Linked DNA regions of Homo sapiens: region 1 is linked to region 2. Evidence: fine-mapped expression QTL. A gene starts in region 2. The other region holds a variant in brackets. All regions are shown on one strand. Distances are between the middles of the regions. Region 1 overlaps BMP4 (bone morphogenetic protein 4). Region 2 holds the start of LINC02331 (long intergenic non-protein coding RNA 2331).

Evidence for each region. PIP is the estimated chance that this variant, and not a neighbour inherited with it, causes the effect.
Region 1: its variant is the best candidate, but not a certain one, in a credible set for the expression of LINC02331 in cerebellar hemisphere (GTEx, PIP 0.87).

Annotation. Positions count from the first base shown.
Region 1 is chr14:53,948,932-53,953,326 of GRCh38, forward strand. It overlaps BMP4 (bone morphogenetic protein 4), which reads right to left. Exons shown (of 4, transcript NM_001202.6): 2 at 4,345-4,395; 3 at 2,922-3,298; 4 at 805-1,957. The coding sequence starts at 3,291. The coding sequence ends at 1,101. Among named protein-coding and RNA genes, the nearest start is that of MIR5580, 2.6 kb to the left of the region's middle. The variant A/G (reference allele first, on the strand shown) is at 1,873.
Region 2 is chr14:53,848,963-53,853,357 of GRCh38, forward strand. It overlaps LINC02331 (long intergenic non-protein coding RNA 2331), which reads right to left and starts at 1,864. Exons shown (of 6, transcript NR_184221.1): 1 at 1,733-1,864; 2 at 853-1,008. RefSeq lists an enhancer at 1,123-2,322.

The DNA of each region.
Region 1 (4,395 bases), 100 kb after region 2:
ACAAGGGAAAAAGTCAAGAAACAATGGGAAATTCTATCAAGTGGCATATTAAAACAGTAGTCATCAAACTTTTTGAAGGTAGGGTACATTATTTGTTACAAAAAAAAAAAAAAAAGACAAAATAGCAGTGCATGCCTGTAATCCCAAAGAGGCCGAAATGAGAAGATTGCTTGAGCCCAGGAGTTCAAGACCAGCCTGGGGCAACAAAGAGAGAACTTGTTTCAAAAAAAAAAAAAGACAAAAGAAAAAACAAAAGAGTCCTACCTGGAGAAAAAAAAAATAAGTTTAAAAACATGCCTTCACACACACATTATGATGTTAGTGTACAAATTAGTTTTGATTTGGAAATATCACATTGGTACCTGTAATAACTGGAGATACCCTGAGGTATCATGAAAGCAGAGGTGGGTATCATTTTTCTAGGGTTGAGACCTCATCACGCTCAGCTGTGATACACCTCAACAGGTGAGTGAAACAGAAGATGTACAAGGGGCCTGAAATGAAGTCTTTAATCTGACCTACACTCCTTTCATCCCAGTGTTTCTCCAAGGCATGTGTCATCCAGATGGGAGAGGATACTGCATCCTTGTTAACATTAAATAGAAATAGAAAACAATTCATGCTGGCAATTACCATCTCTCTCTGCCAACAGTTTACTTCCTGTCCCTACAACTTAACCACCTCCAGGTACCACCTTTTGACTTCCATCCAGCCTCCAACTCACCTGAACAGAAAAAAGCCTCATTCAAAAGAGATGAGCCCGAAGGAAAAGAGAAAGGATTAAGGAGAAAAAAAAAATCATGATTTACCTTTAAAATAATGACTCATTTTATTTTTTTCTTTTAATACGTAGTTATAAATATATTTTGTCAAAATATATGATCAATATGGTCAAAACATTTGCACGTAAAGTCATAAATAAGGTCAAGGTGAATGTTTAGGGATTTTTTCCTTTTTTTTTTTTTTTTTTAAATAAAAGTCCAGCTATAAGGAAGCAGTCTGTGTAGTGTGTGGGTGAGTGGATGGGAACGTGTGTGTGTGGTGTATGTGGTGTGTGTGTGTGGTGTGTATATCTGTCTATCCTCAAGGACTGCCTGATCTCAGCGGCACCCACATCCCTCTACTACCATCTCCTGATAATTTTTCAGTACCACCTTATCATACTCATCCAGGTACAGCATGGAGATGGCACTCAGTTCAGTGGGCACACAACAGGCTTTGGGGATACTGGAATTGACAGAATTGACCAGGGTCTGCACAATGGCATGGTTGGTTGAGTTGAGGTGGTCAGCCAGTGGAAAGGGGCAGTCCCCATGGCAGTAGAAGGCCTGGTAGCCTGGTGGGGCCACAATCCAGTCATTCCAGCCCACATCGCTGAAGTCCACATAGAGCGAGTGGCGCCGGCAGTTCTTATTCTTCTTCCTGGCCCGCTGTGAGTGATGCTTAGGGCTACGCTTGGCCCTCCGGCGTCGGGTCAAGGCATGGCCCCGGCCATCATGGCCAAAGGTGACCAGGAGGGGCCGGAGCTGGGCCCAATTCCCACTCCCTTGAGGTAACGATCGGCTAATCCTGACATGCTGGCCCTGGTGGGTCCGAGTCTGATGGAGGTGAGTCACCTCAATGGCTAGCCCATAGTTTGGCTGCTTCTCCCGGGTCCAGCGAAGGACCGCAGGGCTCACATCAAAAGTTTCCCACCGTGTCACATTGTGGTGGACCAGTCTCGTGTCCAGTAGTCGTGTGATGAGGTGCCCAGGCACCACTTCTGCTGGGGGCTTCATAACCTCATAAATGTTTATACGGTGGAAGCCCCTTTCCCAATCAGGGCCCTGGTCCACCTGCTCCCGGAAGAGCCGAAGCTCTGCAGAGGAGATC[A/G]CCTCGTTCTCAGGGATGCTGCTGAGGTTAAAGAGGAAACGAAAAGCAGAGTTTTCACTGGTCCCTGGGATGTTCTCCAGATGTTCTAGGCACAGTTAGGAAGGAAGGGGAAAAGAAAAAGCATATGAACTTTTTTCAAAGATGGAAGAGTCAAGAGATAGCTCAGGGTTGGGCAATGAATGGTGAATTCTGCTTATGCAGGGGAAACCTACTGGGGGAAAATAAGCATACCCCTTAATTTGAAGGAGCAGATAAGTGGGGCAGCTAACAAACCAGCAAAATGTAGCTAGCATTTCTCAAGCACCAAAGACAGAAACTATATCCAGCCTCCTTGATATGTCTAATAATTTCTATGTGTCAACTCCTCTATGGCACCACAATCAGACTCCTCTTTTAAACCCCCCACCTTGGCTTTGTGTCCACAGTTTTCTTTACAAGTGGTTGTAAAGAAAAAGAGGGGCCAACAGAGCACAGGCAGGAGGAAACATGCAGACAACCACCCTCTCCCTCTTCCACTATTGAGTATGTTACTAAACATTTCCCCAGCGATCTTGGAAACACAGAGCATGCCTTGTTGATCATGTTACAGAGGGGAAAATAAATTCCAACACAGTAATGATGCTGGTGGATTAATAACTCAGATTTACTTTGGAAAAGAAACATCCGCTAGGAAACATTCAGATCGGATTACAAGGCCCCTATTGAATAAACCCGACAAACACACAGCTGTAATATTAAATTCAGTAGGTGCTTTGAAAAAAACGGGCAGAAAACCTAGCAGAAAAGGCTTTGATATAGCAAAAACACACCGCTGGGGCTAGCCCACGTCTGAGTGCTGTCATTCCCCTTCCCCTGAACACCTCCCCCTCTGTCTCCAAAAAATAAGTTCGGCGGCAGCTCTGCAAATTCTTGGAGGTAAGCAGCTCTGTTCCTCAGCCTCCTGGACTGGGGCTTTGATGTAACCCGAACTCTTCTTCCCCAGGGCTTTCACTGCCCCTCTAGCCAGTCCCACCAGCCCTCCCCCACGCAGACTGGGGGAAGAGACTGACCTTCGTGGTGGAAGCTCCTCACGGTGTTGGCCCGGCTGGCCGGGCGCTCAGGATACTCAAGACCAGTGCTGTGGATCTGCTCTTCCTCCTCCTCCCCAGACTGAAGCCGGTAAAGATCCCGCATGTAGTCCGGAATGACGGCACTCTTGCTAGGCTGCGGGCGGCGGCGCAGCCCAAACATCTGCAGAAGTGTCGCCTCGAAGTCCCGCAGGAGCTCATGGCTCTGCCCTGAGCGGCGTCCTCCCGCGTGGCCCTGAATCTCGGCGACTTTTTTCTTCCCCGTCTCAGGTATCAAACTAGCATGGCTCGCGCCTCCTAGCAGGACTTGGCATAATAAAACGACCATCAGCATTCGGTTACCAGGAATCATGGTGTCTCTGGGGAGGGGGAGGGGAGTGGAAGGTTAAAGAATAAATAAACACCAATAAATAGGGAGAAATAGAGATGTGTCTGCATATGCATTTAGGGCTAGAAATGGAGGGGCAAGATGGAAAGCAGGTCAGAAAGATCAAGTTTGTGTCTTCTCCCTCACACCACCCGCCCACCCACCAGCTGCAGCCATGCACGGCCTGAAAGTAAGAATTGCCCTGTAATTACTTGGTCTAACTTGTTTACAGTCAAATAACCCCAAATCAGATAGCCTCCATCCTGTTAATCTTTTTTTGTCCTAACTGCTATCTGGGCCATGATCTCAGCGTGGCTTCTTGAAGGATAAACAGTTAACATTGAGGGGGTGAAAAGGGGTGGGGGAGGGAGAATTAAAATGGCATTGCTCTCCACTTTAGACCTTCAGCTTCTCTCCCTTTTCCTCCACCCTCAGAGCCCAACTTTCACAACTTCCAGTTGGTTCAGAGCCAGAGGGAGGGAAAGTGAGAGGCAGGGGCTGGGCGAAGACAGAGGGCGACAGGGTCCAGAAGCCGAGAAGGTGGTCTGGGAGCTAACCGGGTGGCTTGAGGGCTTATTTTATTGTGGCCGATGAGTTTGAAATATTCAGCCAAAAGTGCCTGATCGTGCCCGCTCATCCCCAGGGAAGGGGTGAGAGACGATTCCGGAGAGACCTCTGTGAGTTTTGACAAGAGAGTGGGAACGCGCCACGGAGACACTGGGGGCTCTCCCAGACAAGTTGGATAGGGGAAGGGAGTGGTTAGCCCTCAAGGTACAACCCCGGGCTTTCATCTCTTTAGCTCCCTCGCGCTCCCCTTTCTTGCAACGCTGAGAGGGCGAGTGCGCGCTAGCAGCACTTTAAAAGGAACCCGTACGCTTCCAGCGCCCCGGCTGCCGGGCCAAGAAGGGAGCGACAGTGCTGCCAGGGAGCAGAGTGTGGATATTGTAAAGGAGGTCCGACGGAAGGGACAGCCGGCGAGCAGGGGTGGTGAGGGCAGAGTGAATTCCGGGGAGGGGGAAGGAAGAGGTGTCTACTCACTGACAGAAAACAAGGCATATAATAACAGTCCATGATTCTTGACAGCCAATC
Region 2 (4,395 bases):
AAGCAGCCTCCTGACTTAGAATGATGGGTGGCTCCGTCTGAGATGTGCAAGTGTGGTAAAAATGTGATTCCTCTTTCCACGTAGTTTGCCAGCCTTTTGAGCCCTCATTTCCATACCCTCCCTCCCCGCGCCTTGTCATTGGCCCATCCCTTATTTCATCTCAGCCCTAATCCCTACCCTGGGGAGCATAGTTGGAGATGGGGTGAAGTTCAAAGATGGGATAAATCTGAGTCACAATGTATTCATAATTAAAATAGATACATTTTTAGAGTTTGCTTTTTAGACTATGTCAAACTATTTTCCACCAAAACCAAATGGCCACATCCAAACAGCAAAAGCCCTAGTGAATTAACTGCATTATGAAGCAAAAATCATAGAAGATTATATAAATATTTTTTAAATTCTTCAGGAATAAATTTATCCCTGTATTGCATAATATTTTCTGGGTGGAACACAATAACACATTTCTATAACTCCATCATGTCTCTTATTGTTCCTTAGCAGCTTATTTTATTTGTCTCAACAGCTATTTTCAATAGAACTGCATTTTAAGGAACTTAAAAAGCATACTCTCTCCTTCCATTCTGATGTCAGATTGTACAATAAAGCAGCCCACTGTGACTATCGGGACGTAAATTTTACCTTTTAGGGAAGAGGAGTATTGAAAAATGCCAGGGGAGCATCTCCTGGTGGGAGAAAGCTAAAGAAATCCCTGTTTGTTCCAAGACAGGTGGCTAGGCATTCATATATCATACATACTTTCTTCGGGGACCATTTTGCTGAGTCAGCAGAGTGAAATCTGGTGAAATAGATCCACAAATCTCCCACTGGCATCCATTTCCTTCATCTAACCTTTATTGCAAGTAGATGTCTCCAAGACTAGGCATTCATCCATTCTTTCATCCGTCAAAAAATGATGACTTTCTGTGTGTTAGGAAACGAAGATATTTCAGTGAACGAAGCAGGCATGGCTGTTGCCTTCATGGAACTAACAGTTGAGCAGGAAAGCTGGAAAATAAACAAAATATTCCTCAAATAACTAATTCATCATAGAAGATTTCCCCCAGTTGTCAGGAGTGCTGAGTTTGACCGTGTGAGGTTGGGGGAGAAAGATGGTTGCCAAGCGCTTCAAATTCGTACTCTTTCACTATGAAACCAGAGGCAAAGCTGTTTCTACTCTAGTCCCCAAAATTGTAAGGCAGGAGGGCCCTTGATAACCCGGAAGGCTTGGATCACCATCCGCACCCCTAAGAGACCTGATCATATGCCCACCCGGTAGGTTGGGGGTCAGGAAAATATGTTCCAGAGGAGTAGAGATGAGGAAATTTGCTGATCAGACCAAAACAAACAAACAAAAACTCTACCCCTATATTCACATATGTATAGGCCATAAGTATCTGTGGCTTATTTTAAAATCAAGCAGAAAGCCGGTGCAATGTTTAAGCAAGGAAGTGATTGATCAGATTTATTTAAATCGCCCTGGCTGCATTGTGGACAATGGCATGGATATAAACTAAGATTAGAGGCAATGAGAACAGTTAGAAGATTATTTCAGACCAGCGAAGATGGTACCTTGGTGATGGCTTTGATGATAAAAACAGAGTCAAGAGCTATTTAGTAGATGAAATATCAACAGGTGGTTGACTATGAAAGGATAATGAAAAGGGAGAGATCAAGACAAACGGATTTCCAAGTTGAGCGACATATTCAGCAATTCTTAACCTAGCCGTACCTTAAACTCACGTGGAGATCTTCACAACAGAAATTCTGATTTAATTGGTTCAGCAGGTGGTCCAGGAGCAGGTATGTTTCAAAGCCCTCAGATGTTTCAAATGTGTACTCAGGTTAGAGAGTCCCTCTAAATGAGACAATCGTTCCAAGGTAGATAACACTGGACAGGGAGGAAGTTTCAGAGAAAATGCCATGCATTCCATCCTGTATGGATTTTTTTCAGAGAGGCTTGTAACTCTTCCAAGTGAGATATCAAGTTAAGAGTTGAATTACATATCCGGGTGTTAGAGGAAAGATCTAAATTGAAGACAGGTGAAAGTGATTGACATTCCTATTGTAATAGAAGTCATGGTTGAAGAGGCAATGGCCAAGGAAAAGAGTATAGTGAGAAAATAAAAGGGCCCTGAAAAACCTCTTATTAAAGATAGAGGATAATGAGTCAGCAAAAGAGACTGTGAAGGAATGTTGGTAAGTTAGAAGGAAACCAGGAAAATAGGCGTTGCCAAAGTCAATGCAAGAGAATGTTTCACGAAGAGAGTGCATAAGTGGGCTGAAAGCTGTGTTTAATTTTGACAAGTCCTGGAACTCCATCCTTCTCCCAACTGTCTAACCTCTGGGTTGATTTTAGGCTCTCCCCGTGATAAGGCTCTACTTTGCCAAAATAACCATTAGCAGAGAATTATGATTTAAAAGTCAAATTGTGGGAAACTCCAAAGCCCATTTTTTGAAGATTTGGAAAATAATTACAATCTCATTTCAGATACTAGACACAAAAGATAGCATTCTATGTTCACATGCAGTCACGATTTCTAGCACTTTCTTATATTATGTTCACCTGTTTGTGGGCTTGCAATTGGCAAGGATTGCAACTCTTTCAGTGTTTGCTAGCATTCTCTCTGTTGCCAAGCAGACACAGGGCAGAACGAATACAGAGTGATCTTTCAGGACTTGTCTTCTCTTCGGGCTCTTACTGTAACATATACAGATTTTTGTTACTGTCACAGTATCCATGTCATTTTATTTCTTTCATGTGTGTCCTCTTATGCTTTCCATGAGAGCAGGTAATATTATTAGATGAGCTTTTATCTCTGGGGCCTGTCACAGTGCCTAGCACTGTGAACTGAATACGTGTTTGCTGAATGAATGGAAAGTTGCATAATTTTTCTGTGAACTCATGAACAGCCAATCTGCAAATTCCATCTCTAAGTACTCTTTCATCGTAGACTGTAAAATATTGTTTAAATAAAGGATGTGGTTTACCCATGTTTAAATTTTAGGTCCATTTTCTATGGAGTTAGTAAAATCTCATTCCAATACAAATTGTTTAATCCCTTGGTGCCGGGGGTTTTCTGCCTGTAAAATAAGAATGGCAATGCTGATTTCCCCTGGCACTGCAGTGAAGACTGTAGAACTCAGAACTCTACTTGTCTGTAAGAGGTACTCGGGTTTGACAACCAGTTGATCACCATTTTTTCTTATTCTATCTGAGTATATGTTGGTTCAGGCACTGTGAGGGGCAACAGATAAGTTCTCTGGATCTATTTACAGCTGCTCCTGGAGCAGTTGCTAAAGGCTGGGTCATGTTGATTGTGTTTGTTTTTGTTTTTGTTGTTTGTTTGTTTGCTACGGGAGTGATTTTTCTAGAGTTCTCCAGCCCCTTTTGGGCTGGACAATAGGAAGTAGGGCAGACCTAGGCCAGCTACAGCAAATGTAGTCAATACTGGTTTTAAGGTCCATCAGACTTGGATAAGTTGTTCAGAGCTAATCTCCCCTCTAGTTCAATTCTGCTATCCAGTTGATGTAAGGGTCTCTTGGTAGAAAACATGTAAAAGAAGTGAGAGATTACCTTATCCAAGGGCAAACTTTCTGACTACAATTTAAATAATAAAATGTATCAACTCACTAGATGCATTGATTGATTGCCAGGCTCCTGAAGTGCCTTACCACATTGTCTCATTTTATATTCATGCAGGTATTGTAGCTATCCCCATTTTACACATGCAGAGAGTGAGGCTCAGAGATGTTAAACAATCTGCCTAGCATCACACAGCTAGCAATAGGCAGAGACCAGACAGAAACTCAAATCTCCCTGACTCCCAGCTCAGCCTCTTCACTACTATTCAATATTGCCCAGTAGATGCTGATTTTCTCTGTGTAGGCTTCTAATGTGCTTTTAGCGTAAAGCTAATTTTCATTAATAGGCTGAATATATGCAATCTGACCTCAAAGGACATACATAGGGGTTTTCTTCTCATTTAAGATTAGTTTGAGGCAAAAACAAAACATGAAATAAGATCAAGTACAGTTGACCTTTGAACAGCACGGGTTTGAACTGTGTGGGTCCACTTATACACTTATTTTCTTCTGCCTCTGCCACCCCTGAGATACCAAGACAAAACCCCTCCTCTTTCTCCTTCTCCTTAGCCTACTCAACATGAAGACTACAAGCATAGAGACCTTTATGATGATTCACTTCCACTTAATAAATAGGAAATATATTTTCTTTTCCTTATGATTTTCTTAATAACATTTTCTTTTCTCTAACTTACCTTATTGTAAGAATACAGGATATAATACATATAAGACAAAAATATGTGTTAATTGACTGTTTATGTTATTGGTAAGGCTTCCAGTCAACAGTAGGCTATTCATAGTTAAGTTTTG